Regions from separate parts of the Homo sapiens genome. Here regions 1, 2, 4 and 5 are each linked to region 3. Evidence: fine-mapped expression QTL. A gene starts in region 3. Each other region holds a variant in brackets. All regions are shown on one strand. Distances are between the middles of the regions. Region 1 holds the start of LOC107986854 (a long non-coding RNA gene). Region 2 has its middle 47 kb from the start of KDM7A-DT. Region 3 holds the start of KDM7A (lysine demethylase 7A). Region 4 overlaps LOC124901758 (a long non-coding RNA gene). Region 5 holds the start of LOC124901757 (a long non-coding RNA gene).

What was found.
Region 1: its variant is fine-mapped to the expression of KDM7A in monocytes (TOPMed, PIP 0.95).
Region 2: its variant is fine-mapped to the expression of KDM7A in whole blood (INTERVAL, PIP above 0.99).
Region 4: its variant is fine-mapped to the expression of KDM7A in whole blood (INTERVAL, PIP above 0.99).
Region 5: its variant is fine-mapped to the expression of KDM7A in whole blood (INTERVAL, PIP above 0.99).

Annotation. Positions count from the first base shown.
Region 1 is chr7:140,228,469-140,234,409 of GRCh38, forward strand. It overlaps LOC107986854 (a long non-coding RNA gene), which reads left to right and starts at 3,018. Exons shown (of 2, transcript XR_001745386.2): 1 at 3,018-3,153. RefSeq lists silencers at 2,065-2,224, 2,805-2,854, 2,905-2,954. The variant G/C (reference allele first, on the strand shown) is at 3,190.
Region 2 is chr7:140,221,443-140,227,383 of GRCh38, forward strand. No RefSeq gene overlaps it. Among named protein-coding and RNA genes, the nearest start is that of KDM7A-DT, 47 kb to the left of the region's middle. The variant C/A (reference allele first, on the strand shown) is at 2,575.
Region 3 is chr7:140,173,709-140,179,649 of GRCh38, forward strand. It overlaps KDM7A (lysine demethylase 7A), which reads right to left and starts at 3,275. Exons shown (of 20, transcript NM_030647.2): 1 at 3,036-3,275. The coding sequence starts at 3,229. It overlaps KDM7A-DT (KDM7A divergent transcript), which reads left to right and starts at 3,553. Exons shown (of 1, transcript NR_024451.1): 1 at 3,553-5,932. RefSeq lists silencers at 2,004-2,283, 2,294-2,473, 3,114-3,213, 3,254-3,683 and an enhancer at 2,908-3,831.
Region 4 is chr7:140,302,496-140,308,436 of GRCh38, forward strand. It overlaps LOC124901758 (a long non-coding RNA gene), which reads right to left. Exons shown (of 2, transcript XR_007060560.1): 2 at 1-62. Among named protein-coding and RNA genes, the nearest start is that of SLC37A3, 93 kb to the right of the region's middle. The variant A/C (reference allele first, on the strand shown) is at 3,408.
Region 5 is chr7:140,079,038-140,084,978 of GRCh38, forward strand. It overlaps LOC124901757 (a long non-coding RNA gene), which reads left to right and starts at 3,760. Exons shown (of 2, transcript XR_007060559.1): 1 at 3,760-3,816; 2 at 4,147-4,551. KDM7A (lysine demethylase 7A) reads right to left here. Exons shown (of 20, transcript NM_030647.2): 20 at 5,709-5,941. The variant C/CA (reference allele first, on the strand shown) is at 3,311.

The DNA.
Region 1 (5,941 bases), 55 kb after region 3:
TAAAACATTTCTCAAACAGTTCTTCACGATCTGCTGCCTAAGACTCTTGTAGTACTTGCCACAGCAATATAGAGAACGTTTAAGCTTCTTATTTGTAATAAAAAGTGACAAGAGGCCAGGCGCGGTGGCTTACGCCTGCAATCTCAGCAATTTGGGAGGCCAAGATGTAGGGATCACCTGAGGTCAGGAGTTAGAGACCAGCCTGGCCAACACGGCGAAACCCTGTATCTACTAAAAAATACAAAAAAAAAAAAAAAAAAAAAAAAAAAAAGCCAGGCACAATGGCTCACGCCTGTAATCCCAGCACTTTGGGAGGCTGAGGTGGACGGATCACGAGGTCAGGAGTTCGAGACCAGCCTGACTAACATGGTGAAACCCCGTCTCTACTAAAAATATAAAAATTAGCCGGGCATGGTGGCGTGCGCCTGTAATCCCAGCTACTCAGGAGGCTGAGGCAGGAGAATCACTTGAACCCGGGAGGCGGAGGTTGCAGTGAGCCAAGATCACGCCATTGCACTTCAGCCTGTGTGACAGAGCGAGACTCCGTCTCAAAATAAAATTAAAAAAAAAAATTAGCTGGGTGTGGCGGCGGGAGCCTGTAATCCCAGCTATTTGGGAGGCTGAGGCAGGAGAATCGCTTGAACCTAGGAGGCGGAGGTTGCAGGGAGCCTAGATTGTGCCACTACACTCCAGCCTGCGCGGTAAGACGGAAAACACTGTCTCAACAAAAAAAGGTGACAAGTACAACTAACAGTTCATTGCACATTTACCGTGTGCCAGACACCCATCTGTTTTGTGTGGGTTGACTCATTTAAATAAACCAATTAACTTTTAGAGAAGGAGCAGTTCAAGAAGGAAGGCTTTCAGTCACATAGCTGCGTGACCCTAGGCCTTCAATTTCTCTTCCATAAAGTGGGGATAATACCCACCTAATAGTTATTGTGAGGATTAAATGAGATAAATGTAGGTATAGCATTTTCACCCAAAGTTTTCCAACGTCATTTCATAGTTATAAAGAATCGAATGATACATTTGAGAAGTACGTACTGTATTAATGAAAAAATGAACAAACCAGGAAATGGAAAATTTTGAGATTCGTTTTGGCCTATTTCAATCTGCCCTTCAGTATGTCCATCCTGGTGGAGGTGACCTTGGACTGGCGTTTGACTCCCCACAGCCAGTCTCTGCTAAGCCCTGTCACCACATCAAAGGGGCCACCTAGACAACGTGAAGTCAGAGGAACCCCAATCCTGCCCACACTTCAAAGGGGCTCCTCTTCCGGAAGTTGTTACAGCATTCCTTTCAAGGAGGGTAAACAACGAAACAGCTCCAGGAGCTCACAGCTCGCTCCAGCTACATCACTGGCCTCCACGCTGGGACGTGGAGCTCTCTGGGGCCCAAACAGCACACCGAAGAATGAAAATGTCCCTCTGCCGAGAGCAAGTCGGCCCTGCTGCCTTCCCATTTCACCCTTCCACTAATGAGCACCAGGAAGCGCCCCTCCCAGGGCGCGCCCTCAATCAGCGTCTGGCCCTGAGCAGGTGGCACCCCTCTCTTCCTCTCTGCCCTCTGTCAAGACCATACCACGGCTGTTTTGACTCCTGGGCTTCCGCCCTTTAGTTTACACATTTGATGATTCCGTTTGAAAATCGCAACCTGAAATACTCCTCTTCTAGGCTGGAGGCGGGGTTGGGGGCGGGGGCGGTGGGTGGCGGAAGGAGGGCCCTCAAACAAAGATCCGCTTTCTCCTGAACAGGTGTCAGGAGACCAAGCTTTGACCTCCAGCTCCCTGGCCTCCGGGCGCGGGCCCTGGGCTGATCTGGCGGTGGACGTGCAGGGCAGCGGGCCCGCGCCCACCAGCTGTGGCAAGTTTCTAGTAAGAGAGGGATAGAGACAGGCGGAGACCGCTGGGGAGTTTCCCGGTGCTCAGCCATCGCATAGGGGGGAACGGACCCTTTTGTGGGCCCTCGGGTCCCCCCGTGGTCCCCGCTGGCGCGCTCGTCCTCTGCCACCCCCAGATCTCTGCGCACTCCCCACTCCTGGGCGTTCGCACTGCCCCCCGGCGCACTCTCGCCGCCCCGGGGTCCGAAGCACCGCGCACTCCACCCCGCGACGCGCGCATCCCTCGACCCTCGCGCGTCCACACCGCCGCTGCGCCTCGCGCCCCCGCACCCCCGCAACCCCACACCACGCCGGCCGGGCGGGGCCGGATGCGCAGACGTGCAGCACGTGCGCTGCGCAGCGATTGGCAGCGCCGCCCCCACGCCGCCCCGCCAGGGAAAGGGTGTCCCGTGCCCTGCCGCGGCTGCTGGTCCCGCGGGCGGGGGCTGTCGGGGCGCGCGGGCCGGGCCGTGGGGGTCGCCGCCCGAAGTGACCGGGGAACAATGACAGCCCGATGGGGAAGGGCGGCGGCTTCCCTAGAGGGCCGGTTCTCTGGCTCGGAGCTGGGGGGCGTGGGGGCCGTAGGTGTTGCTTCTGCGGAATGGAAATACTTTCTGTGAGTGGTGCGCACGTGTTTCCACTTTATTTGGTTGTCAACTGGGGCCCAGTGCACTTAAACCCAGCGTTATTCGGGACCGAGCCAGGAGATCACTGCACCCTTCAATCTGCGGGTGGGGGGAGGAGTTAGGAAGGGGACTGAGTGACAAAAGTGACAGAGGCGCAGCTCATGTGCGTGACCGGGGGAGTGATGCTCAGTTCTGGGTGGGGGACCAGAAAGATGTCCACTGCGGGACTGGGCGATGAAGGGGCGGATTTGAGTGGCGGCTACTGTTTCCCGGCCTGGGACGGCTGCCGGGCGGGCAGGATCTGCAGGCGCGCGGCCGGGACGCGCAGGGAGCGCGCAGGGAGCGCGCAGGGAGCAGTGGGGCTTCCCGGGCCGCTTCGGGGAGGTGGGCAGGAAAGGGCACGCAGCCCTAAGTGACTCTCGGCTGAGACTGCCTCTCCTCATCCCAGCAGTAGCCAGCCAATGAAAAATAGGCTCAGGGGGTTCCCGAGCCAATGGAAGCCCGCGGGCCGTGAGGACTTGCCACTAGAAACGTTTATGGTGTCCCGGCCCGGAGACTTCTGTGTGTTTGTTAGGCGGGGCGGGGGGCGTCTTCCCAGCAGCCCAGGACAGGTGTGTGCCCAGGCGGATTAGAGCGCCTGCTGTTGGTAAGGCCCCTGCCGTGGAGGGGGAAGGGAGGACAG[G/C]GGGAGGGCAGAGGTGAGGAATCTAGGAGCTGGCGAACGGTTTCTCCCGCTTTCTGTGTCCTGCGTCACTTTCCCTTCTGTAAACGGTGGTCTTCCCTTTGTGTCGTGTTTGATCGTTTCTAAATTGCTTTCCCATGCATTACTTTACCCAGCCATCACTGTAACCCACAAGATGGGTTTGATTACTCATTTTACCAGCAGGGGAAGTGAGGCTCAGGTAAGTTAAATCCTAGGCACATGGTGGCACAGCTGCTTAGTACAGGTTTGGGACTGGAACTCAGGTGCCCCGACGACAAATCCAGGGCTCTTTAACTACATCAAAGGAAGGAAACCAGGTCTGTTTTATGATCCTGGTGCCAAGGGCACACCCAGTGATTAAACTGAAATCCAGAAGGACCGGGTGAGTTTTATTTCCCCTTCAGTCATGCTCTTTCAGGTTGTCCCTTTGCAACACAGGTTTGCTCTGCTATTACACGCCATGCCTTAAGATTAAGAGAGTTCACTGACTGCCAGAAAAGCCAGAAGTAAAAAAACAGAATGTGTGTAGGGGCGGGCGGGTTACCCACTGTGCATTTCCTCCTTACCCACACCCTCAGGCCAACTCGAGACCCGTGGTCCTCTCTCATGTTGGTCCCCCACCTGCAGATACTGTTTCCTGTTCCATGGACTGGGCTCGGCCTGCCTAAAATAGGCTGCACCCAAGAAGCTTCTACCTCCACTACTGCCATTATCCCAGCCATGAGGAAATAAACAACTTCCTCCCCGTCCCCCCGCGGCTACATTTATTTATTTATTTATTTATTTATTTAATTTGAGTCTTGCTCTGTCACCCAGGCTGGAGTGTTGTAATCTTGGCTCACTGCAACCTCCTTCTCCCGGGTTCAAGCGATTCTCCTGCCTCAGGCTTCCAAGTAGCTGGGACTACAGGCGCCTGCCACCACACCAGGCTAATTTTTGTATGTTTAGTAGAGACGGGGTTTCACTATGTTGGCCAGGCTGGTCTCGAACTCCTGACCTCAGGTGATCCTCCCACCTCGGCCTCCCAACGTGCTGGGTTTACAGGCATGAACCACTGAGCCCGGCCAAGGCTACAACATTTTTAATAGGAGTGTTTCTCCTAGAGGATTTGTCAGTCGGGGCCTTGCTGTGTCTCTGCTATGGTGCCTGATGAAGTCTCTGGATCTTTTCAGCAAAGCAGATGATGCTCAGTGGTTCCCAGGGCTGAAAGCCCATCACAGTCATCTGTGAAGGCGTTTAAAAATACACATCACCGAGCGCATCTCTGGATTGGGATTCAGCAGGTCCAGGGCGCGTGTTATGTTTTTTGTTTTAAATACTCAAGTGATTTAGATGACTGGTCAGGTTTGAAACCACAGATATAAAATGACTTCCATCTGAAAAGTCTGAAATAACTCAAAGCTGAAATTGGAGGCTTTTTGGTCAGATGGGAACCTGTCATTCAGAGGTCCATCATGCCTAAGAATGTGAAGAATGACAACTCTTCATAAGAGGGTCCAAAAGGGAACGAAAACTCTTTGTGGTAGGAATATCCTATGTTGAGTAATCTGGGACCTTAGGGGAATATAGGGTTAGGGAACTGATACTGGGTGTGAACTGATTTTATTTTCACTAAAATAAAACTAAGAAATCGGCACTCAAAGTCAGTGGCTTACATCCTACACAACTTGTATTCCTATCAATGGATGCTATTTGCTTCCTTTTCATTTATCAGCCCTTGCTTTCTAGACCTGAGCTGTCCAGTACATTAGCCACTAGCCACATGGGGCCGTTGAGCACTTGAAGTCTGGCTAGTCCAAATTGAGATGTGTTGTATGTGTCAAACAAACATTGGACTTCAAAGACTCAGTAAGGAAAAAAATGTAATCATTAATACTTTCAACATTGATTATGTATTAAAGTATTTTAGATCTATTGGGTTAAGTCAAATAGATTATTACAATTAATTTCAGCTTTTTCTCTCCTTCCTTCCTTCCCTCCCTCCCTCCTTTCTTTCTCTTTCCTTCTCTTCCCTTCTCTTCTCTTTTCTTTCTTTTCTTTCTTCATCTCACTGTCTCCCAGGCTGAAGTACAGTGACACAATCATAGCTCACTACAGCCAGGAATTCCTGGGCTCCAGTAATCTTCCCACCTCAGGCTCCTGAACAGTTAGGACTACAGGCACACCCCACCGTCCCCTGGCTAATTTTGTTTTAGAGGTGGGGGTCTCATTATGTTGCCCAGGGTGGCCTCAAACTCCTGGCCTCAAGCAGTCCTCCCACCTCACCCTCCTTAATAGCTGGGACTATAGGCGTGAGCCACCACGCCCCAGCTTTCTACTTTTATTGCGTTAATATGCCTAGTAGGACATTTTTAATTACATATTTGGCTTGTGGAGGCTGGGAACATTCTTGATCTGGATGATAGAGGTATATGTTTGTGTGTGTGGTGTTGAAATTCATCAGACTGTGTCCTTAAGTTTTGTGTACTTTACTGCTCTATGTAAGTAAAAGTCAGTTTAAAAATTAAACAATACGGCCGGGCGCGGTGGCTCACGCCTGTAATCCCAGCACTTTGGGAGGCCGAGGCGGGCGGATCACGAGGTCAGGAGATCGAGACCACGGTGAAACCCCGTCTCTACTAAAAATACAAAAAATTAGCCGGGCGCAGTGGCGGGCGCCTGTAGTCCCAGCTACTCGGGAGGCTGAGGCAGGAGAATGGCCTGAACCCGGAAGGCGGAGCTTGCAGTGAGCGGA
Region 2 (5,941 bases), 48 kb after region 3:
TTGCAGCTGAATCTAAACTAACTGGTACAAATCAGGAATAGCTTCAACAATTTTCTCTAAGCCTTAATGACAATCCTCAAATAGCCTGAATGCATCTCTGGGGCTTGGGAAGGTATGGCCAGCAACTTCCTGCTCACTCTGGAAGCCCCCGTGTGCTGTGTTTCCAGAGCCAGGAGAGGCAACATTGCTCAGTCCTTGGAGGACCAGGTCACACAGGTTCATCAGGGTTTTCTAAGTCTATGTTCTGGACTCTATTTCCAGAACTCCAGCCACTTCCTGAGCCTTCAAGCTGCTGTTTTCCCCTAACCCCAGAAAACCCCTGAGGTTGTGTAATTATGAACTCCAAACACGGAGCACCAAAAATCAACAGAAGTCAGGAAAAGAAGCTCCTTAACCTTGTCCAAAGAAGCTCAGTAAAAATACAAATAGTAGCTGTGAGTGAGGCAAAAACAAATCTGTAAACATAAACAGATTAGAGGCCGGGCATGGTGGCTCACGCCTGTAATCCCAGCACTTTGAAAGGCCGAGGTGGGCGGATCGTGTGGTCAGGAGTTCGAAACCAGCCTGACCAACATGGTGAAACCCTGTGTCTACTAAAAATACAAAAATTAGGCAGGCGTAGTGGCATGTGCCAATAATCCCAGCTACTCAGGAGGCTGAGGCAGGAGAATCGCTTGAACCCAGGAGGCAGAGGTTACAGTGAGCCAAGATCATGCCATTGCACTCCAGTCTGGGCGACAGAGCGAGACTCTGTCTCACAAAAAAAAAAAAAAAAAAAAAAAAAAAAGAGAGAGAGATTTGAATTCATTGAATTCAATAGAGATTTAAAAATCATTAGAATGGGAATCTTGAAACTTCAGTAAGGATTTTCCTGTTAAAAAACAACAAATTCGGCTGGGCGCAATGGCTCACGCCTGTAATCCCAGCACTTTGGGAGGCCGAGGCAGGCGGATCACCTGAGGTCAGGAGTTCAAGACCAGCCTGGCCAACATGGTGAAACCCCGTCTCTATTAAAAATACAAAAATTAGCCAGGTGTGGCGGCGTGTGCCTGTGATCCCGGCTATTCAGAAGGCTGAGGCAGGAGACTCGCTTGAATCTGGGAGGCAGAGGTTACAGTGAGCCAAGATCACGCCACTGCTCTCCAGCCTGGGCGACAGAGCCAGACTCTGTCTCAAAACAAAAATAAAAACAAAACAACAAATTCAACCTGACTGGAGAGACCAGAACGTGGGAGTCCCCCATTCGTGTCCCACTGATAAGAAGTGTCCTAGGAATCACAGCAGCTGGTGTCTGAGATCAACAGCCCCCCAGTCACTAAAGCGCTACCCTGCCTTTCACACTCTAGCCCCAGAGCTGGGAAGGGAGCACTCATGGGGACATTGTCCCTGTTCGCAGAGGGAACACGGCCGCTTGTCAGCGCCTTATCCCACTGTCAGGGCAGCTGGCTGGGATGGGAGGGGAGACTGCATGAACCCCCATATTTGTGAAACTGAGTAAAAAGGAAGTTCACTTCCTGAGAAGGGTGAACTAGTCAGGCATGACATCTACAATCACCTTGCTTATGAGGCTGCAACAGAGGGGTGCTTGTCTACAGAGGACGTTAGCTACACAGGCGACGGCCCTGGGCAGATGACAGCCACGCTTGCCCATGGCACTGAGCATACCATGGTGCCCGGTGACAACACTGGGGTCGAGTCTGGAAGCCCTAGAGAACTCTGCTTCCCAGGGCTGCTAACACTGACTGGGGAGGACCCTCTGATGTTACAAAAGCCAGAAAAGGCACCCCCGGTCTCTTTCACGAACCTGATTTCCCTGTAGGAAGTAAGTTCTTGCTTCTCTTAAAACGCGATTCCCAGAACTGAACATAATAAATATTTCATTCCTAGGACCCTAAATGGTCCAATGGGACCGTTACTTCCCCTGTTACTTTCTAGCAACGTGACTTCTATCTTCTGTGGAAGTGGGAAAGCACCTGACCTGGGGTCTCATTCCACTTCTGCCACTTAAGGACTGAAGCCTCTTTGAGATTCAGACTCTTTGGCTGTCAATGGGGGTAAAAATACCCTGCCTATCGCTGTGAATCATTCTGAAGGGAATATGCTCATACACCCAGTGTCCAGCAGTCTGGGGAGACGTGAGATCCCTTTGCACGGATACCCCATGTCACAACGATTCTGAGGCCCCTGATGAGCGCAGGCCCTCAGCCCCAGCCCTGCAGAAGTATTCCCTGGGTCTTTCAGGGAGTCCTCAAAAGGGTCCCCGACATCTGTTGAACCAATCAGTCCCAGTCATCATTGTATCCTTCCTCTGGCCTGTCTTCTGTGGCTTGAGGTCCACCAATACGAGCCTTGGGGCCACTACCTCTAAGACACAGTGCCCATGGGGCTGCCAGGCTCCAGGTCCGGGGCTCCGTTGGTGCTCTAGATCCCTACACCCTGCGTGACCCAGCAGTGCTGATTCTGTGCACGGATGGAGAAAATGCACCTTCCACCCTCAGCCACTCCGTTATCTCCTGCAAGCAACTTTCAGCAACAACTCCCACACCCTGCCAAAAAAACAACCACTGACAAAAA[C/A]ATCAGTTTCCACAGGAGTGAGCTCAGCCGTTCACACCTTCAGACAACATCTCCCCTGGACTCAGGACTGCCTCAGCCTGAATGCCTGATTAACACGCCCAAGCCAGAACTGTGAAGCCCCTCAGAGGGGAACAACAAGAGAGCACAGCTGCCTGTCCCGGAGGCCTTCATGAAACCAAAGGACTTCACCCCCACAGTGAACTGAAACATCCACCTCCAAACCCAGAAAACTGCTGGCCACTTTCAAAAGACACCTCCTCCTCCCTCTCAGGAGCTGGGCCACGCTGCAGCCTAAGGCACCTCTGTCCACGTTGGAGGAGGAGGCCAGAGGGACCACCTAGGGAAAAAAAAATAAAGCATTCAGAGTCAAAAAATACTGTTGATTGCAGTGTGGCAGAGGTGCTAGGGCAATGGGGGAACACATAGGTTCAGAGAAAATCAGACAAATGCAAAAAAGAAACTGCCATTAAGTCCAGAAGGAGAAAAGGGTTGTTTAATCACAGAGTGTTGTCCTAGAACACTACATGGCTCAGAGGTGAGCCATGCCCCCTCCTAACACTACATACCTCCTCCTAATAATGTGAACAGTTGTCATTTATTTCATAAAGTACTGGAATACAAGGATACAGAAGGGGGTATAGGAAGGAGAGCGTTTCCTCCGCTACCATGATTGGAAGTTAACAAGTAGTGTGCAAAGTCGAAAATCAAGAAACAGTAATGTGGCTGGACGTGGTGGCTCACACCTGTAATTCCAGCACACCTGTAATTCCAGCACTTTGGGAGGCTGAGGCAAGCAGATCACCTGAGGTCAGGAGTTCGAGACCAGCCTGGCCAACATGGTGGAACCCCATCTCTACTAAAAATACAAAAATTAGCTAAGTATAGTGGCGCACACTTGTGATCCCAGCTACTTGGGAGGCTGAGGCAGGAGAATTGCTTGAACCTGGGAGGCAGAGGCTGCAGTGAGCTGAGGTCACCCCACTGTACTCCAGTCTGGGCAACAGAGTGAGACTCCATCTCAAAAAAAAAAAAAAAAAAAAAGGAAAGAAAAGAAATAGTAATGTAAGCATATTGTTTAGAAAAATGGTGGAAAATACAAGAAAAATGGCTACAGAGTTGGCAGTGCCGGCCTTCAGGAAGACAGCCTTGGGGAACAAGAGGCTAAGCGCAATTGTAATTTTTCATTATACTTTTTATGTATTTATTCTACTTTGCTTTTTATAGCTATGTACATGTAGCATTCTGTTAGAGATAATTTTATATAAAACAAGTCCTGACCAGGCATGGTGGCTCACACCTGTAATCCCAACAATTTGGGAGACCAAGGTGGGCAGATAACTTGAGCCCAAGAGTTCAAGACCAGCCTGGACAACATAGTGAGACCTCATCTCTAAAAAAAATTTAAAAAATTAGCCAGGCAGGTGGTGTGTGTCTGCAGCCCCAGCTACTGAGAAACCTGGGAGGTAGAGGCAGCAATAAGTCATGATCACGCTGCTGCACTCCAGTCTTTGCAACAGAGTAAGACCCTGTCTCAAAAAAAGAAACCAAAAAAAAAAAAAAAAGAAAAGGAAAATGAAAGAAAACAGATTTTCTCAGCCTCTACAAAGGCAGGTTTCAAAAACCTCAGGGCTCTATCACAGCTAGAGCTGTCATCAGATACGTTGCCATGTGTATTACTTTGCTAGAGCAAAGTAACAAAGTACTACAGACTAGGCAGCTTAAACAACAGTAAAGCATTGTCTCACAGTTCTGGAGGCTGGACGGCCGAGATCCGGATGTCAGCAGGATGGGTTCCCTCTGAGGGCTGTGAGTGAGAATCTGTTCCAGGCATCTCCCTGAGCTGCTGGTGGTTGCCAGCAATCTATGGGGTTCCTTGGCTTGTAGAAGAAGCACCCTGATCTCTGCCTTCATCTTCACATGCCATTCTCCCTGTGTGCATATCTGTGCCCAAATTTCCTTCTTTAGTTTTTATTTTTATTTTTGAGATGGGGTCTCATTCTGTTACCCAGGCTGGGGTATAGTGGTGCAATCATAGCTCACTGTAGCCTTGACCTCCCTGGCTCAAGCAATCCTCCTACCTCAGCCTCCTGAGTTAAGCTGGGGCCACAGGCATATGACACTGCACCTGGCTAGTTTGTTAAAAATTTTGTATTCTCTGTAGAGATAGTGTCTCACTATGTTGCCCAGGCTGGTCTCAAACTCCTAGGCCCAATCGATCCTCCTACCCCAGCCTCCCAAAGTTCTAGGATTATAGGCAGGAGCCACTGCACCTGGCCTAATGGATCAGGGACCACCCTACTCCAGTATGAACTCATCTTAACTAATTACATGTGCAATGACCATATTTCCAAATAAGGTCACATTCTGAGGTACTGGGGGTAAGGACTTCAGCATATGAATGCGGGGGGCAGTAGCAGTAGGAGGAACACAATTTAGCCCAACAAACTGTTAAAACTGTGGAGTGTTATTGTCATATACTTTAAAACAAATTGGCCACCCTGCAGGTCCTGTGTCTTAACATGGCTGCCTTCCTATAATACTGACTGGTACACTTGCTCCCAGAGCTCCCAATTCAACTCTGCAACAGCCCCAACTCTCTTCATTTCTCCCTGAACACACACCCACTGAAAGGTACTCTTGCTCCCTCCCCTCAGCCCCCACATTAACACCTGTCACCCTGTGGTGCTGCTGTGCCTATGTCCTGATTCCTTTGCACAGATCCCTGCTCACTAATTGAGCCTTATCTCTTCTCCCTCTCCCATTGATCCAGCCAGTCCTTTCCTCCTTCTTCTTAGATCAGGGGTGTCCGATCTTTTGGCTTCCCTGGGCCATACTGGAAAAAGAAGAATTGTCTTGGACCACACATAAAATATATTAACAATAGCTGATGAACTAAAATAAATAAATAAAATCACACAAAAAAGTCTCATGACATTTAAAGAAAGTTAACAAATTTGTGTTGGGCCACATTCAAAGCTGTCCTGGGCCGCAGACAGCCCATGGGCTGGACAAGCTGGCCTTAGATAGATTGAGACCAGGAAGCCCCCAACTTCCCCCATAATAGAACTCGTAAACTGAATCTCAGCACAAAAGGATCATCCTCCAGTGGCTGAGTACACTAGAAGCTTGAGTCCTCTGCTCATGGGGCCACTTCCTAGTTGGGTAATGGACAACTTAACCTCCCTGTGGCTGTTTCCCTACCTGTAAAGTGGGACTAATAATAGTAACCCACATCATAGGCTTACATGACATAAAGCATGTGAATCTCCTAGCACAGTGCCTAGAACACAGTAGGTATTTAATAAATACCATTTGTTACTATTTTACTATTACCAGGTGTTACTTTTTATCTTCTTTCATTGAATCA
Region 3 (5,941 bases):
GGGTCAATTCTCATGGAAGCAAATGATATTTGTTTAATAGTTAATATAAAGGAACATTTTGCTGTGTTCCGAAAAACGATCACTCATTTTATGGTACAGTAAACATCAGAGTAAATACCACGGGAAAAACATACAGAGTCCAAATTACCAATACTTAAGAATTAAACTTACTAGGCCGGGCAGGGTGGCTCACACCTGTAATCCCAGCACTTTGGGAGGCCGAGGTGGGCGGATAACCTGAGGTCAAGAGTTCGAAACCAGTGTAGCCAACATGGTGAAATCCCGTTCCTACTAAAAATACAAAAATTAGCCAGGCGTGGTGACGGGCACCTGTAATCCCAGCTACTCGGGAGGCTGAGGCAGAAGAATCACTTGAACCCGGGAGGCGGAGTTTGCAGTGAGCAGAGATGGCGCCACTGCACTCCAGCCTGGGTGACAGAGCGAGACTCCGTCTCCAAAAAAAAAAAAAAGAAAAAGAAAAAGAATTAAACTTAATAAAAAGATACTGCTTTTGTAGGGCAGGACAATATAGCTAAATTTTCTAACTTTTGACATCTGAACCACATAAGTTTCAAGGATTGATGGTCAAAAAGACCCTGGGCTCAAAAAAACCTATTTTAGACTCACTTCCACAGATATAAAGTTACACAAATTTATGTGTCAAAGCAGAGAGGGCATATTTGTTTTGGCCTTGCTCTCCCTCCTTCCCGTAAGCCCTCTGTATTTCCTATTTCCCTATTTACAAGTGTATACTTACATGTATTACAAAATTCTCCATCAAATACCTGGGGCTTTTCATGGTTATAGTGTTAAGTGACCTAAATTAAGATAAATACAATTCTAGTCTAAAATTTGGTAGCCTATCAAATCCGCATTGCATAATGAGACAAGTTTCTTTTTTCTTTTTTTTTGAGACGGAGTCTCACTCTGTCGCCAGGCTGGAGTGCAGTGGCGCGATCTCGGCTCACTGCAACCTCCGCTTCCCGGGTTCAAAAGATTCTCCTGCCTCAGCCTCCCAAGTAGCTAGGGTTACAGACATGCACCACCACGCCCAGCTAATTTTTGTATTTTTAGTAGAGACGGGGTTTCACCATGTTGGGGTTTCACCATGTTAGCCAGGATGGTCTCGATCTCTTTACCTCGTGATCCACCCGCCTCAGCCTCCCAAAGTGCTGGGATTACAGGCGTGAGCCACCAAGCCTGGCGAGACAAATTTTTATGCAGTTTAAACCGCCTCAAATTTCAAAAAATAGTTCTTTGAAAAAAAATAAGCATTTACATAATCACCAGGGATTCTGATTTTATTCTATATAGAACCTAAATGTTCGGATAATCTTTATTCTAGTTGCGTAGAATATGTTATGGAAACAGGATGTGGAAATAGAATTGGATATACAAGACTGCTAAAGATTATACGAAACGAGGACGCTGCCTTTCTTTTAAAGTGATAATTTACTGTGTCTTGTTTTCTGTTGTGAGAATCGGCTAGCCTGAAAACTGATTAAGTAAAACTGTACTTGAAAATTAAGTAAAACTTAACTACACCTAGCACTAAACACTGCAAAGAACATTGTGATTTACATGGTTTTCTCTCCCTGGACCAGTAGAGGGAGACTAAGACATCTGGCCTGGTCTTGTAGTGTTTCTGTAAAATTGGGGAGGGGGGGAGCGGAGGCTGTATTTAAATGTCCTGCTGTCAATCAAAAGACACTTCCTACAATCACAGTCACCATATCTGCTATTACTCGTGAGCGTGCTCTCGCCAAGAGACAACACCAAACGGGGCCCGGGAAACCGGCTTCAACTAAAGGTGACCGCAGGCTTTGCCACAACACCCAAATAAGGACTTTGGGAGCCCAACCCCAACTAGTTTCTTTGTTTAAATGCCTGTGAATCCCTCCCACGCCGGAGTCAAGAGGCTGTGGCGCCGCCCTTTATTAGCCTCACACTTTGATTACAAAACACACGAGTCGGCGGCCTGGCTGCGGAGGCGGCCCGAGCTCTCAAACGTCAAACCCGGAGCGCGGCGGCGGCTGAATCAGAGGGCAGCGTCCGCCGCCGCCGCCAGCCGGCCCCGCAGCGTCCGCCCGGCCGACTCAAGTTCGCCGGCACCGGCGCCCGGGCACAGCCGCAGGCGGTCCCGGTGTCGCCAGCTTCGAGCGATGGCAACTGCACTCTTTGTAAAGTTTAAGCCGCGGCGCGAGGGCAACGCAGGGGGTCCGGAGAAGCGTTCCCTTCGGGCCGCCGCAACCCACTCCATCTGCCCCAGTCCCGGCGACCCGGGTGTGTGCGGGGGCCCAGGACCGCGACCCGGGTCAACCTGCCGCCCGCCGGGGGCCCGGCCCCAACTTCCCCGGCACCTTTCAAGTCCCCGAGAGCGAGTGCCTCATCTGTTGCTCTGTTTACTCCGCGGAGCCCCGCCGAGCTGGCTGGCGCGGTCGCCTCTCCGGCCCGCCGCTGCCCCCGTCCCACTGGCCCAGGAAGTTTGATAAAGACGGGGAAGGGGGCGCGACAGGGACCCGCGGCGCGGAGGAGACGCGGGGCCGGGGCGACCCCATCGCCGCCCGGAAGGAAGGCAGGCGCGTCGGCCGGCCGGGCAGAGCGGCGGGGCGGCCGGCGACTCCGGCCGGAGCCCCGGGCGCGGCGGGGCGGGGCGGGGCGGCGGCGGCCCGGGCTGGCGAGGGGCTGCGGACCCGGCCGGCGCTCCGCCCGACGCCCCCGCCGCGCCCGCCCGGCCGCGTCCCCTCGCCCCAGGCTCCCCCTGCCAACTTATCCGCCGGCCCTCTTTGTTCGTGTTTGTTGTGGCGACTCTTCGCCCGGGCCAGGCGAGCCCACCGGCTCCCCTCTGGAGCCCGCCCGGCGAACCCGGGGCACCGCGCGCCCCACTGCCCGGCCGGGGGGCTAGGCACCGGGGCCCCCTGAAAGCTGGGCGCGGCGCGGCGGCCCGGCCCGAGGGAGGCGCGGGCGGCCGGCGGCGGCGGCGGTTGGTCGGTGGCCGGCGGTGGCGGCTGCGGGGCTGGAGGGGGTTTATTTACCTGCCGTGGAACCAGTCCTTGCAGATATCGCACTCGATCATGAAGCGGTTCACGTCGTACGGCTGCCGGCACACACAGTACACGGGCGGGGGCGGCGGAGGCGCCGAGGCCCGGCCGGGAGCCGCCACCGACACGGCTGCCGCGGCGGCTCCAGCTGCTGCTCCCGCGGCCACCGCCGCCGCCGCTCCGGCCATCTTTAAAAAACACACACACGCTCGCTCGCTACTCCGCTCGCCGACTGGAGCGAGCGCAGCCGCCAGCCAGCGCCGCCTCCTGCAGCAGCCGCGGCGGCGGCGGCGCCTCAGTGCGCGCGCGCGAGGCCGCGGCGGCTGGCGGAGGGGGAGGAGGCGCGCGCGACGCGCGAGGCCCAGACTCGGCTGCTTCCGGCGCTCGGCGCGGGGCCGTGCGTCTCGCGCACGTCTCTGGCGCCGGCGCGCGCTCCCCGCTCCTCTCCGCGACGGCCGGGCGGAGGGAGCTGTTGAAGGGCACGCAGGCGGCTGCGGGGGCGGAGGGAGCTGAGGCCCCGTGAGGACACGCGCGGTGGTGGCGGTGGCGGCGGGCGCGCGGCCGCAGCCGGAGGAGGACGGCGGGAGCGTGCGAGGAGCTGGCTCGGTTATTTCGGAGCGAGAGCCGAGGCCGGGGGAAGTTCCTGCGGAGTGCTCAAGGGCAGAAGAGGTGCCGCGTCCCGAAGAGGGGAAGCGGAGAAGTTTGCTGCTGCCCGGGTCGCCTCGCGACGCTGAGAGAATCGCCCAGCCCTCCGCAGCCGCCCAGCGAGAACCGGAGCTGCGGCCCCGCACCGGCGTGAGTCCAGCTGAGCTGACACGCCGAGCCGGTTGTGCCTTTCCGAGGGAGGAATGTGCCGTGGAATCCAAACTTTGGAAAACGTCCCACCCGAATTCCCAGCGAGCAGCAAGGAGACCAGAGCGTCGATGGAGCCACCGTTAGTTGCGGGAGGGCTGTCCCCAAGAGGAATTCATCACTGTCGTCCGCTGGGAGGGACCAACCTTGAAATGGGGTTGGTGGAGAGAGGGATAGAGAAGAGCCGGCGTGCTTATAAATAACAAAACTTAGCTATGAACCCTTCCGATTCCCAAGTGGGGAAGATGGGGTAAAATTCTAAGTGACTTCTCGCTCCGAAGAGGGATACCACAAAAAGCGGAGCGCAGGGTACTTGGCGTATAATAAGCCATCAATAATTTATGGGTGAAATTGAGAGCCAAATATAAGATGATAAACTGAAGAATAAAAACAGCTGACAAATACTGTATAGAAAAGATTGCGTTGGAATCATAACTGTGGATTGGAAGTGATGTTAAGGATTATTGGATTGAGTATTTGTAGCTGAATTTCTGCTGGCATTTCTATCAGTGGGGAAAGCCCTCACAGCTCCATAGGTAATTTTTGTTAGGGGAGGAAGAAGTGTTGTTCTGTCACCCACCCCCAGGCAAAGAGTCGCTGATCTAATTCTCCATTTCTTTCTTTCTTTCCTTTCTTTCCTTCCTTCCTTCCTTCCTTCCTTCCTTCCTTCCTTCCTTCCTTCCCTCCCTCCCTTTCCTTTCCTTTCCTTTCCTTTCTTTCCTTTCTTTCTTTGAAACGGAGTTTCGTTCTTGTTGCCCGCGCTGGAGTGCAGTGCAGTGCTGTGATCTCGGCTCATTGCAACTTCCACCTCCCGGGTTCGAGGGATCCTCCTGCCTCAGCCTCCCAAGTAGCTGGGATTACAGGCGCACGCCACCGCACCCGGGTAATTTTGTATTTTTAATAGAGACGGGGTTTCACCATGTTGGCCAGGCTGTTTGAACTCCTGACCTCAAGTGATCCGCCCGCCTCGGCCTCTCAAAGTGCTGGGATTACAGGCGTGAGCCACCAAGTCCTGCCTAATCTCCTTTTTATAGTTGAGGAAAGCTAGTAACTTGACTGAAGTCTCATATATTAGAGCTGTAACTGAAGTTTTTAAGTGTCTCAATTCTGCAACTATTCGTTTTTCTATCACATCACTGTTTGGCATATATATAGCGGGAAAAGGAAAGGCTGGAAATTAGTTGACCACACACTGATTAAGCTTGAAACATATTTCTACTGGAGAAAAAAAGGTACTGTAATTTTGGCATAGGCATCACATATTGCTGGAGTGGAAAGACCCATGCACTCAGGTCCTGCTTTCTATAATCTGTGACCTCGGGCCAGTCACTCCATTTCTCCTGAACTAGATCACTGATGATCTGTTGAAAGAAAAAATATGGCTAGTAATGCCTTAATTATCTCACAGAGGTTTTACATGGAGCAAAAAGACAATGTATTTTTAAATGTACTTTGTTGAAGGTGTGTGTTGTCGAGACAATACAGCAGTGAAGAGAAGGCATGCAAAGCTGTCTTGTTGGAGTCTGGCTAAAGAGCACCAAAGCAGCCTGTTGTGGGATGTCCTCTGGGGGCCACCTGGACTTGCTATGTTAACATGGAGGGACTAGGCAGGGGTATGAAGAAGGAAGCCCAGCAGAGCAGGAGGCAGCAGCAACAATGAGAGATTGGTTATCCATATGACTTGGATCTGTGTCCCCACCCAAATCTCATGTTGAATTGTAATCCCCAATGTTGGAGGTGGGGACTGGTGGGAGGTGACTGGATCATGGGGGTGGATTTCTTATGAATGGTTTAGTACCATCCACTTTGTATTGTCCCCGTGGTAATGAGTGAGTTCTTAAGAAATCTGGTCATTGAAAAATATGTGGCACCTCCTCCCTCTCTCTTTTGCTCCTGCCCCGGCTATATGATGCAATTTGTCTTCAGCCATGATTGTAAGTTTCCCGAGGCCTCCCCAGAAGCTGAGCAGATGCCAGCATCATGCTTCCTGTACAGCCTGCCTTCCATGAGCCAATTAAACTTCTTTCCTTTACAAATTACACAGTCTC
Region 4 (5,941 bases), 130 kb after region 3:
CTGTCAGTGTTGCTGAGACCAATAGTCAGTCACCTTCTTTCTGGGCCTTGATTTTCTCATCTCTGAAAAGGAGGAAATGTATTACATCAGAGGTTTCTAACCTGAAATCCCTGGATCTCCCAGGGAATCCATTAATCCCTGGAAATTATATGGAAGATTATGCATGTGTGTATTCGAGGGGAAGGGAGTCCGGAATAACTACCCCCATCCCCTCCCAAAATTAAACACCATCATGCTCAGTAATACCCAATAATTTTTTTGTTTGTTTGTTTTTTTGAGACAGAGCCTCCCTCTGTCACCCAGGCTGGAGTGCAGTGGTGCAATCTCGGCTCACTGCAACCTCCGCCTCCCAGGTTCAAGCAATCCTCCTGCCTCAGCCTCCCGAGTAGTTGGCATTACAGGCACCTGCCACCACACCTGACTAATTTTTGTATTTTTAGTAGAGACGGAGTTTCCCCATGTTGGCCAGGCTGGTCTCGAACTCCTGACCTCGAGTGATGTGCCTGCCTTGGCCTCCCAAAGTGCTGGGATTACAGGTGTGAGCCCCCACATCCAGCCCCCAAGAACATTTTGGAGCACTATCATTCCACAATCATGTGGCTACTTGTGTCAGCTGCAGAGCATCACTTTTGCTAAGTGTCTGGTTCCAGCTGAATCTTAAGAAAAGGTGATTCACTTTGCCTTTTTCCTTCCATAAGTTTTTCTGCCCTAACAGAAAGAATACTGTAAAAGTGCAACACCTCTTAATAGCGTCGCCCTCTGATCTCTTCAGGTGAAGGTCATTTCATTTAAAATAGCAAGGTCCTGAATCACGTCCATCAATTTTCATATAACCTCAATCTGGGTCCTTTTGTATTTGGCTGGCTTGTTTTCTAAATGCTGGAGCTATTCTAACCCTCAGAACGTGTCTGCAGGTCTGGTTATCATAACCAAATGGATGGGAGACGGGAGCATACCAATATATTTGGAACAATTCAACAATCCAATTTTCTCTACCCAGAGAAACAGCTCTGCAGCAGCCCCGAATGGCTACACATGCCAGGTTTGCCTAATTGGACATGGGTGTTAGCCCATCACCTGAGCAAAGGAGGGAAGCAGAACCCTCCCTGCCTGTCATGTTCAGAGCTCATTAGTTCCCACACAATCACATTAGGTTACAGATTTTCTGTGTGCCAGTTCCCCAGCGGTACCCTAGCAACAAGTTGAGCCAACAGTTTTCATTACAAACTGCCTTGGTCAGTATAAAGGAACCATCTTATATTTCTTCCAGAGAGCAAAACATGCTAGACTCTTAAGTGTTCTTAATAATTGGCTTCACTGCAGATGATAGAGGTGGTTTCAGAACTCATCCTCTTCCTAAAATATGTATTTCTCTGTTCTTAGTTCTCTAAAGAAATAGAGCTCCATGGCCTAGCGCAGTGCCTCACGCCTGTAATCTCAGCACTTTGGGAGGCCGACGTGGGTGGATCACCTGAGGTCAGGAGTTCGAGACCAGCCTGACCAATATGGTGAAACCCCGCCTCTACTAAAATTACAAAAAATTAGCTGAGCGTGGTGGCATGCGCCTGTAGTCCCAGCTACTCAGGAGGCTGAGACAGGAGAATCTCTTGAACTCGGGAGGCGGGGAGGTTGCAGTGAGCTGAGATTGCGCCACTGCACTCTAGCCTGGGCGACAGAGCAAGAGTGCATCTCAAAAAAAAAAAAAAAAAAAAAGGAAAAAAGGAAAAAAGAAATAGAGCTCCATGATCAACCTTTGTGACTCCAAGTGTGGCCCACGAACCAACCACCGCAGCATCATTTGGAGATTGCTAGAAATGAAAACATCTCAGCCCCACTCCAGACCATCTGGGCTAGAATCTGCACTTTAACCAGATCTTCAGGTGACTCACACATGCAAATTCAAAAAGTACTCCAGAGAAATCACCCAAAGCCCCACTAGTAGACAGTATCTGCCTTACATCTGTGACCTTCTAGCAAGTAATTCATGATCACTAAATGTGAGCCTCTTTCCTTCTCCCTGTTAAAACCCAGGGCACCACCAGAGAAGCTTAGAGGGAGGAAGGGAAGGAGAAACAGGCCCAGAAGATGAAGAACTTGGAGAGAGAAGGAGTAATGAAGATGGAGGAGTGAAAAATGAAAGGGCTTGGGGTGGCCTTCAGAGCCTCCCCATAAGGGGTTTTAGGCCTTCAGGGTGTTCTCCGTAGTCACACACTGCCTCCTAGAGTTACTTGGTTAATAGTCTCTAAATAGGACTCACTTTTTAACTTTGATGACTTTTGAAAAGAAATGCATGTCTCAGGTTTTATGTGCATGTTATAATTTTTCTTTTTGAGACAGGGTGTCACTCTGTTGCCCAAGCTGGAGTGCAGTGGCACTATCTCAGCTCATGGCAACCTCTGCCCCCCAGGCTCAAGCCATCCTCCCACCTCAGCCTCCCAAGTAGCTGGGACTACAGGCGTATGCCACTACACCTGGCTAATTTTTGTGTTTTTGTAGAGCCAGAATTTTGCCATGTCACCTAGGCTGGTCTTGAACTCCTGGGCTCAAGTGATCTGCCCACTTCGCCCTCCCAAAGTGCTGAGATTACAGGTATGAGCCACCATGCCCAGCCATATTTTTTTCTAATACACATTAAAATAGATTCGTGGCTATTAACATTTTGTGAAGTGTTGTTTGTAACCACTGCAGACGATCCCTGGGGACACCTGATCTGGAAGAATGATAGTCCAAGTGGTGCAGGAAGTCCCCTGAGAGCTGGCACAAAATCTACAGGGCTGGTTCTATATCCTCTTTTGTGTGTGTGTGTGTGTGTGTGTGTGTGTGTGTGTGTGTGTGTGTGTGACGGAGTCTCGCTCTGTCACCAAGGCTGGAGTGCAATGGCGCAATCTCAGCTCACCGCAACCTCCGCCTCCCGGATTCAAGCAATCTTCCTGCCTCAGCCTCCCAAGTAGCTGGGATTACAGCCATCCACCACTATGCCCAGCTAATTTTTGTATTTTTAGTAGAGACAGGGTCTCACCATGTTGGCCAGGCTGGTCTTGAACTCCTGATCTCAGGTGATCCCACCTGTCTTGGCCTCCCAAAGTGCTGGGATTACAAGCATGAGCCACCATGCCCGGCTTTTTTTCTTTTTTCTTTTTGAGACAGAGTCTTGCTCTGTCACCCAGGCTGGAGTGCAGTGACATGATCACAGCTCACTGCAGCCTGGACCTCCTATCCTCCCTCCCGAGTAGCTAGGACCACAGGTATGCACCACCATGCCTGGTCAATTATTTTTTTATTTTTTTTATTTTTTTAGTAGAGATAGAGTCTCATTATGTTGGCCAGGCTGGTCTCGAACTCCTGGGCTCAAGTGATCCTCCCACCTTGGTCTCCCAAAGTGTTGAGACTACAGGCATGAGCCACTG[A/C]ACTGGGCTGAGGTTCGTACTATTTTCTCATGTGTCTAAACTGCATTGCAGGACACAAGGGTGTGGTATAATAGTTGTTATTCAGCCAAGTTAAAGCAGCAGTCCACTGCAGATCAGGAGGACCACTCACATAGAACCTGCTTAAGGGTAGTGGCAAGAACTTGGAATAATGATTGCAGATTAGGCCAAGCACAGTGGCTTATACCTGTAATCCTGGCACTTTGGGAGGCTGAGGCAGGCAGACCACTTGAGGTCAGGAGTTTGAGATCAGCCTGGCCAACATGGTGAAACCCCGTCTCTACTAAAAATGCAAAAATTAGTCGGGCATGGTGGCAGGTGCCTGTAGTCCCAGCCACTCAGGGGGCTGAGGCAGGAGAATTGGTTGAACCCACAAAGCAGAGGCTGCAGTGGGCCGAGATGATGCCACTGCACTCCAGCCTGGGTGACAGAGTGAGACTCCATCTCAACAACAAAAAAAAGATTGTAGATTAACAAGCAAATGTTTGCTTAATACTGTAAGTTAACATAAGGCACATGGGTTAGGTTGGCTAGAGTCCTGACTACAGCAGCCATCCAAGACCATCATCTGGGTTCAGAGCATGGATCTAAAAGAAGCAAGAAGCCCTCATCTGGATGTCGGTTGGCCTGAAGGAGCCTGGGGGCCTCTGATCTCCTGCAAGTCACGGCCACGCTTTCCTTCACTTAGCAGCTGGCCTCCACAGAGATGTCAGCAATTCGTAGGAACGGTTGTTCCCTTTATCCTTTGAGAAAAGGGACATGCAAAATAAGCCAAACATTTTCTAGTGTGAACAGACTGAGGTGCTACTTTTAAAAAGAAACAGGGAGCAACCGAAAAGTCCAATGGAAAACAGAAAATAACCAAGAGGTCAGAAACTAACACCAGAGAAGAAAGTAGCAATGATTTAAATGTGCGCATTAACAGTTCACAGGAATGGAACAGAGTTTCCATACGCTGAAAGGTGAGTCTCTTTTCCATCTCCACCGAGAGCACAACTTCAAAGGAACAGACTCAAATTGTCGGAAGGGCTAAAAAGAACAACTTTGACTTGTTAGGGATATCAGACTCTGATCCAAACTAACAAAGGAAATAATGTGCTCGCCTTGGAAAATCTTTTTTTTTAAATGGATAGCTTAAAAAAAAAAAGTGCGCCTGGCTGTATTGTGGGCTAGGGGCGGGTTCTGGCTGGACATTAGGGGTAGAGTCTCTGGTGTCTTTCAATCGGTTATAAAAAGCTCCTAGGCCCTCAGTCCAGTCTTTTCTAGAAGTACAATTAATTATATTGCATTAAATATTGCCTGCGGTAAGTGGGCCATCAATGAAGCTGAGTCTTTCTGTTATTTCTGTTTCCGTGCTTTGAAGACAAGTGTCCTCTCACAGAGCTCTTTGTAAACAGACTTTCTGCCAATTGAATAGAGTAGATTAATTGCACTATAGGAGGAGGGAGAACTTGCAATGTAAAGTGATTCTATGGTACGCTTTACTGTAAAAATGAGAGTCTATTGTAAATGTGGGTTTTTGAAAAGCAAAATGGAAGAGCCCAGGCCAGGTAAAAGAATGAATTCCCATCGCACATAGGATAGAGAAGCAGGGCAGCCGGCAGGTGCCGCATGCACATAAAGCTGTTAGCACCATGCCTAGCCCTGAGGACTCAAGCAACCCATGGAAGCTCCTGAAATACTATCAGCCTGTTTGGATACTGTTATCCTCCTATTCTCCCACGTCTACATAAGCACCAGCAATGACGGAGGATTAAGATTTCATCTAGTGCTCATCAATCTCTTAAATCTCTGTTCAGGAACTGACAGTGGTTCAAATCCCAGCTCTCAGCCGGGCACGGTGGCTCATGCCTGTCATCCGAGCACTTTGGGAGGCCGAGGCGGGTGGATCCCTTGAGGCCAGGAGTTTGAGACTAGCCTGGCCAACATGGTGAAACCCTGTCTCTACTAAAAATACAAAAATTAGCTGGGTGCGGTGGTGGGCACCTGTAATCCCAGCCACTCAGGAGGCTGAGGCAGGAGAATCACTTGAACCCAGGAGGCAGAGGTTGCAGTGGGCCAAGATCATGCCATTGCACTCCAGCCTGGTCGACAAAAGCAAAACTCCGTCTCAAAAAAACAAAAAAACAAAACAAAACAAAACAAAAAAAACCCGCCCTCCTCTCTCTCCACTTAGGTCAAGCCAACCTTCTCCCTAACCTCTGCAAAACTTCAGCTCCTCCCTGCTCTTGCCTTTTTCCGCACTCCTGGGAGCAAAGAGATGAAAACAGATGGTTGCAAATGACTCCTATGGACTGGAGCTGAAATGTAGGTTGAAGGTAACAGTGGAGAGAGTACAGGCAAACAAAGCCCAAAGTCCAGCTCCTTCTCCTCAGCTTTCTGCTCCCTCCAACTTTCCTCTGGAAAGTTCTCAACAGTAAACAGCTCACACAGTTCGGGAAGTTTGAGGGGCTTGCACTTTTTCCATGAAACTCTTCAAACAATCATATGAAAATATATTGCAATTATTAGACATC
Region 5 (5,941 bases), 95 kb before region 3:
ATAACTTGTCAAGGCCAGCCAGGCATTAGGTTGCTCGAATCTTGTGGCCTCCAAAGTCCAGGCTTTTCAGTCTCTCAAGAATAGAGAAACTAGACAATAAAGTGATTACAGGGTCACCCTTCCTCCCCCTGGAGGCTGCAGGCTGCACGCAGCCATCTGGGATGGGGAGGTGAAGCCTTGTGCCAAGGACGGCAGGCCAGCAGAGGGCAGATCCTGGCCCTGACCCCCTCGGGAAGTGGTCTCAGTCCTGGAACACCTATCTCCTGCCTTCTATCTTGTTTAAGCCATTTGTGTCCTGGGTTTTCTCTCCCTCACAGCTGAATCTACATCTGACTCATTCACCACATTAAGGATTTTGGTCTTGATCCCAAGAGCTCCAGTGAGAGCTGAAGCGAGGCCAGGAGCAGGTGGACTGAGGCACGTGAGGATGAGCCGGCAGGCCTTTGAGAGTCACTGGTTGTGGTGGGAAGAGGGAAGATTTGAGATCACCCAGACTCCTGGCCTGGGCAACTGAAGATTGTCGAGGCCCATTCACAGGGAAGCAAGTTTTGTACTGAAGGGGAGTTGGAACCAGATACCGAGGCGCAAGCTGCGTCCATTCAGGTGGACTGCAGGAACCAAGGCAGGAGTTTGCCTTCTGCTCACCCTGCTTTCTGCCAGGCTTCTCTCCCTAACCAGCCCAGACTCACATCTTTGTCCACTCTGGGGCTGCCTGTGGTCTTACAAGGCAAGCCCTCCTGCACCACTGAGCAACTGCTTTCCTAAGCATCACACCGCTCAGAAGTTAAAGCAGAGCCCAGCAACCATGGAGGGCTTCCTGAGCTCTGAAAATACTGTTCTGTGTCATCTGCAGGTGGCCAAAGTCCTTTCATAACTTGATACCACCTTATTGATCTGTTTTATAGTTTTACACATTAACCATGACTATATTTGATATTTTCAAAGTGAAGCACACCTATATAAAGTTTACAAAGCAAGTACAATAAAATTAAGTTTTAGGTTCTAAGTGAGGTGTATATATTTTTAATCCAGCTCATTCACACAATTGATCTCATTAAAGGAAAATCTACTCCTCCTCCTTTTTCTCATAAAGAAACCTGAAATACTCATTCTTTTTAACACCATATTGGTGAATTTCTACAGTTCTTAATAGTTGGCAGAATCCTCAAATTGTAAAGGGTTCTTTCCCCATTGTTCTCCATTTCTCTTTACTCTCTCTCTTCCACTCCCCCCATCCCATATGGCTGCCAGAGGCAGAGCGAAGAGTGCGCAGGGGTGGGGAAAGGGAGAGAGAGCATGAGGAATACCCATGTTCATGGGTTTACTCAATGTTATTTTGAGATTTGTACTAAAATGTGTGGGAGGTGCTGATGATAAGAGAATACCAATCCTAGCCTTAAACTCAGGCTGGTAGGAAAGACAGACGAAACATGGAAAAGTAACCAAAAAAGTGAAAAGGGTAGGAATAGAAGCCAGACTCGGTAGAGAGCAGCGGAGGAGGGAGCGCTTCGCAGCCAAGCTCCCTGGGATTTACCGTGCCCCATTCACCAGCCCTGACCCACCCCATCCCACTGGGCTGTCAGTGCAACACACCAGGAGCAGGCAGGCTGATTTCTTGCGGGCTGTGCACAGGTATGATGGTGTGATTAGTGTGTCTTGGGCGCAGTTAACACATACCTCACAGTAGAACACATTTGTCTCTCTTAATTCCACAAAAACATAAAAGTAAAATGTGTGAAAATGCCCAGCATCAATTATCTCTCCCTTTTGATTCCCATCCTCCCAGAGGTAACCAGCCACTGTTAACCACCTGGTAGCCTTATTCCAGAAACTGAAAGATACCTCAGGCTCCCTAGCCCATGTCCCAGGATTTCTGCACTTTCCCAGGCTTATGTCTGGACTCTGGCTTCCTTCTCCAGTAGGATTCTGTCCCCTTAGGCAGCCGTGCCCTTTGCTCTCTTGTGGATGCCCTGCCTTTAGTCTAATCGTGTTCACACTCGTCGCAGTAGCTTGAGTAAGTGCATTGGTTGGCAGCTGGTGGAACTCAGATGGCATTCGATACAGCAGCACAGAGAGGAGCTTGATCTGATGGCTAGTAGTTAGCGTCTCCTTGTGCCAGGCACTGTCCTTGAGTGTGCCATATGTTTTCATTTATTTAATCACTCAGTAGCCTAGTGAGGTAGATAAGTATGTCGCAGAAAACTGAGGCACAGCAAGGTTATATAATTTGCCCAGGACCAGTTAGTAAAGGTAGAGCCAGAATTTAACCCACTTGACTCTGACTGCAGTCTGTGTTCCTAGCCCTCGGATTCCATGGAGTCTAACAGGTTAGAATGAAGACTCACAAGATCAAAGGTGATAGGCAGACCCATCCTTAATCTAGTGGGTACCATCTAATCAGCTGCCAGCACAGTTAGAATATAAAGCAGGCAGAAAAACGTTGAATACACTGGCCTGGTCTCCCAGCCTACATCTTTCTCCCATGCTGGATGCTTCCTGCCCTCGAACATCGGACTCCAAGTTCTTCAGTCTTAGAACTCAGACTGGCTCTCCTTGTTCCCCAGCTTGCAGATGGCCTATTGTGGGACCTTGTGATACTGAGTTAATAAATTCCTATCTATCTATCTATCTATCTATCTATCTATCTATCTATCTATCTAATCTATCTCCTATTAGTTCTGTCCCTCTAGAGAACCCTAATACAGGTCCCAAAGGGTAAGAGACAAAAATTTGGGCTGCATGCAGTGGCTCACACCTGTAATTTTAGCACTTTGGAAGGCCAAGGCAGGAGGATTGCTTAGGCCCAGGAGTTCGAGACCAGCCTGGGCAACATTTTTCTTTACAAAAAATTTAAAAATTAGCTGGCTGTGGTGGTGCACGCCTGTGGTCCCAGCATCTTGGGAGACTGAGGTGAGAGGATGGCTTGAGCCCAGGAGGTCGAGGCTGGAGTAAGCCGTGACTGCACCACTGCACTGCTGCCTGGGCAACAGAGTAAGATCCTGTCTCAGGAAAAAAAAAACAAAAATTTGCAAAGATTAGAGGTTGGATGGGAAAACTGCAATTGGAGGTTGTGGTAAGTGGGAGGTGAGAGGATGGTGGTAGGATTGATATATGATGTACGAGACTCCTCCAGGGCACCCAGAAACGGAAGGACAGCTTCTAGAATAAGAGCATAGGAAGCTGGGGGTGGTGACTCACACCTGTAACCCCAGCACTTTGGGAGGCCAAGGCGGGTGGATTGCTTGAGGCAAGGAGCCAGACCAGCCTGGCCAACATGGTGAAACGCCATCTCTACTTAAAAAAAAAAAAA[C/CA]AAAAAAAAAAACAAGAAAAAAAACAGATTAGCCGGGCATGGTGATGCACGCCTGCAGTCCCAGCTACTCGGGAGGCTGAGGCAGGAGAATCACTCGAATCTGGGATGTGGAGGCTGCAGTGAGCCAAGATCGTACCAGCCTGGGCAACAGAGTAAGACTGTGTCTCAAATAAATAAATAAATATGCATAGGAGAGGGTCAAATACTATTTCTTACTGTTATTGCAAGTCTTTTGTCCCAGGTCATATTTGCCTTAAAAAAAAAAAAGTAGGGAATTTACACATATTACTTTCCACTTGTAGATCCTTCTTTTTTTTTTTTTTCCTCAACTCTGGCATAGGATTTATGTAAACTTTTGATTTTATAAAATTTCAGAACTAGCACTTTACAAAGTGTAAAGGCATTTTGGAGACACAGGCTGGGAAGAGTCTGGACAAGGCAAGGAGAGACTTGAGCCCAGGAGTGGATCAAGAGGAAGATGTGGATGGTGCTTCTGCAAGGCACGGGTAGGCAGCACCCCAGGATCAGCGATGGTGGGCAGAGCAGGACCTTTTCCTCTCCTCCTTATCTGGGTTGACCACCTACAGAGCTGGGGCAGAAGATAGGGCAGGATGTGGCTTCGGTGTCCAGGGCAGGAGAGGAGGGAGCAGCCCGGGTGGGCAAGGCTGTGAAGGAGGCTGCTGCGCTGCCCCACGGGGCCATGGTTAGGTCCAGCAGAAAGGGCGGAAGGGGTGCACTGGGCATGGCCTCTACTCATATGCCAGCTCTGAGCCTCTGGAAATCCACATTTGGTTCCTGTATCCTAACAGCACTTCTCACATGTCATTTATTTACAGCCTATGTTATTCACTAGAAGGTGAGCTCAATTCTAGAAGATGTTTCTTCAGTGTGCCCAGCTCCTGGAAAAGTGGACTCAAGAGAGGTTCTGGTGACAAAAAACCTCCACAAGAAACTACAGTTTCAATCCACAGTGGGTTGCGCCTGCAAAGAAATTTTTACAACACCAACCATTCCTAAGGACCATCTATTCCTTCCTTAATTAAAAGTATATAGTTAAAAATACTTAGAGAAACAGCTTAGAATAGTCTTTAGAGTCAGACAGACTGAAAATGTCTGTATTCATGTGAACCTGGAAGTGTCATTGGCCCTCTCTGAGCCTTGGATGCATCTGTAGGATGAGGAATGTAGTACCTACCTCGCTGGGTTATTTTGAGAAAGAAATAAAAATATCCTTGCACACAGTAAGTACTCAAATGGAATGAAATAAAAGATAGTAAGGGCTCCTGTTTCAAATCCTGTCTGTAACATAGCATTTGATCCTTCCTACTGTAAAATAATTGGCATTTATCATCAACATCCCACAGTGATGTGTCTCATGCTGTCTCACTGTTGTGAAACCACAAAAATCAGCTGAAAAGTCTAAGAAGAGTAGGTCCTGATCATTGTTTCATTAACGTATGAGCTTTGGGAAGGGCAGACAACCCACAAATTTACAAATAGTATATGGATTTTCACAAAACAAGCAGATTTGTTCAGATTTAGATTTCAACCAATTTCATGAAAGCAGACACAGGAGATGCAAACTGCTTTTGTGGATTCCGTTCTAGGGGCGGAAGCAGCTCTCAAGGTGTGTTTAAGTGTGCATGCTTTGGCGTCCCTGTTCTTTTGCAGATATTAGGGGGAGGGAGGGTATGGTCTTTGGTCCTTCTGGTCACTTGGTTTCTGGGACTCTGAGCTCAGTTTCTCCTCGGGAACAGACTTCCTGCCCACTTGTCTCCTTCCTAGGCTTCTCTTCTGCCCTGGAAGTGATGCCTGCAGGGCTCCTTCCTTCCTGGTCCAGAGTTCCTCTCTCATCTCCTCTAAGGACAGATCTTTTTCCTGGTCCGTATCATCCCTGTCTCTCAGACCCTGAGTCCAAAACTGAGCTCATCTTCCTCACGGAGTGTGCACTTAACACTCTCACCTTCACCAGCCAGCCAGGCCACCACACCCCTGGCTCTCACTTGCCTTTTGTGTCTCACACAAGCTCCTTGAGGCCTGGGACTTGGTTTTGCTCACTCCTGCAGCACTAGTGCTAAAACAGTGCCTACTGTACTGCAGGTGTTAGGAAATATTTGTGGGATGCCTGGGCAGGGGCTGTGAGTGTGCTGAAATGTTCATTAGCCAAGTACCCACATCCGTTTCTACGTTTCAGCCTCATGTTGCCAATTACACTTTTGTATTCTTCCCTCTCTTTGAGCAATCACTCATCCCCAGCAATACTGCTAATAAAATAAGACAATTACTTTTCACATTGAAGTCTTCAGAAGTAGTAAGGAGCAGACGCTGAACCCAGTTTTTCATACTTTTAAATAATTTCCCATGATTCAATCAGCAGAAAAAGGGAACAAAGTCAGAATTGGATATAGAATTCAGATTCTTTTTCTTTCAAGGACGCATTTTATACAATTTTCAACATTTATACTTTCAAACAAAATGAGCAAAAAATACACTAAGTGCTAAAAAAATCAAAACAGAAGTAATACAATTTTAATTTCAATATTTTAAAATACAGAAATTGGAAAGAATACTAAATACAACTTTAAACAAGTCACTTGTCCTCCCCTATAATAATCAATGTAAGCTACTTAA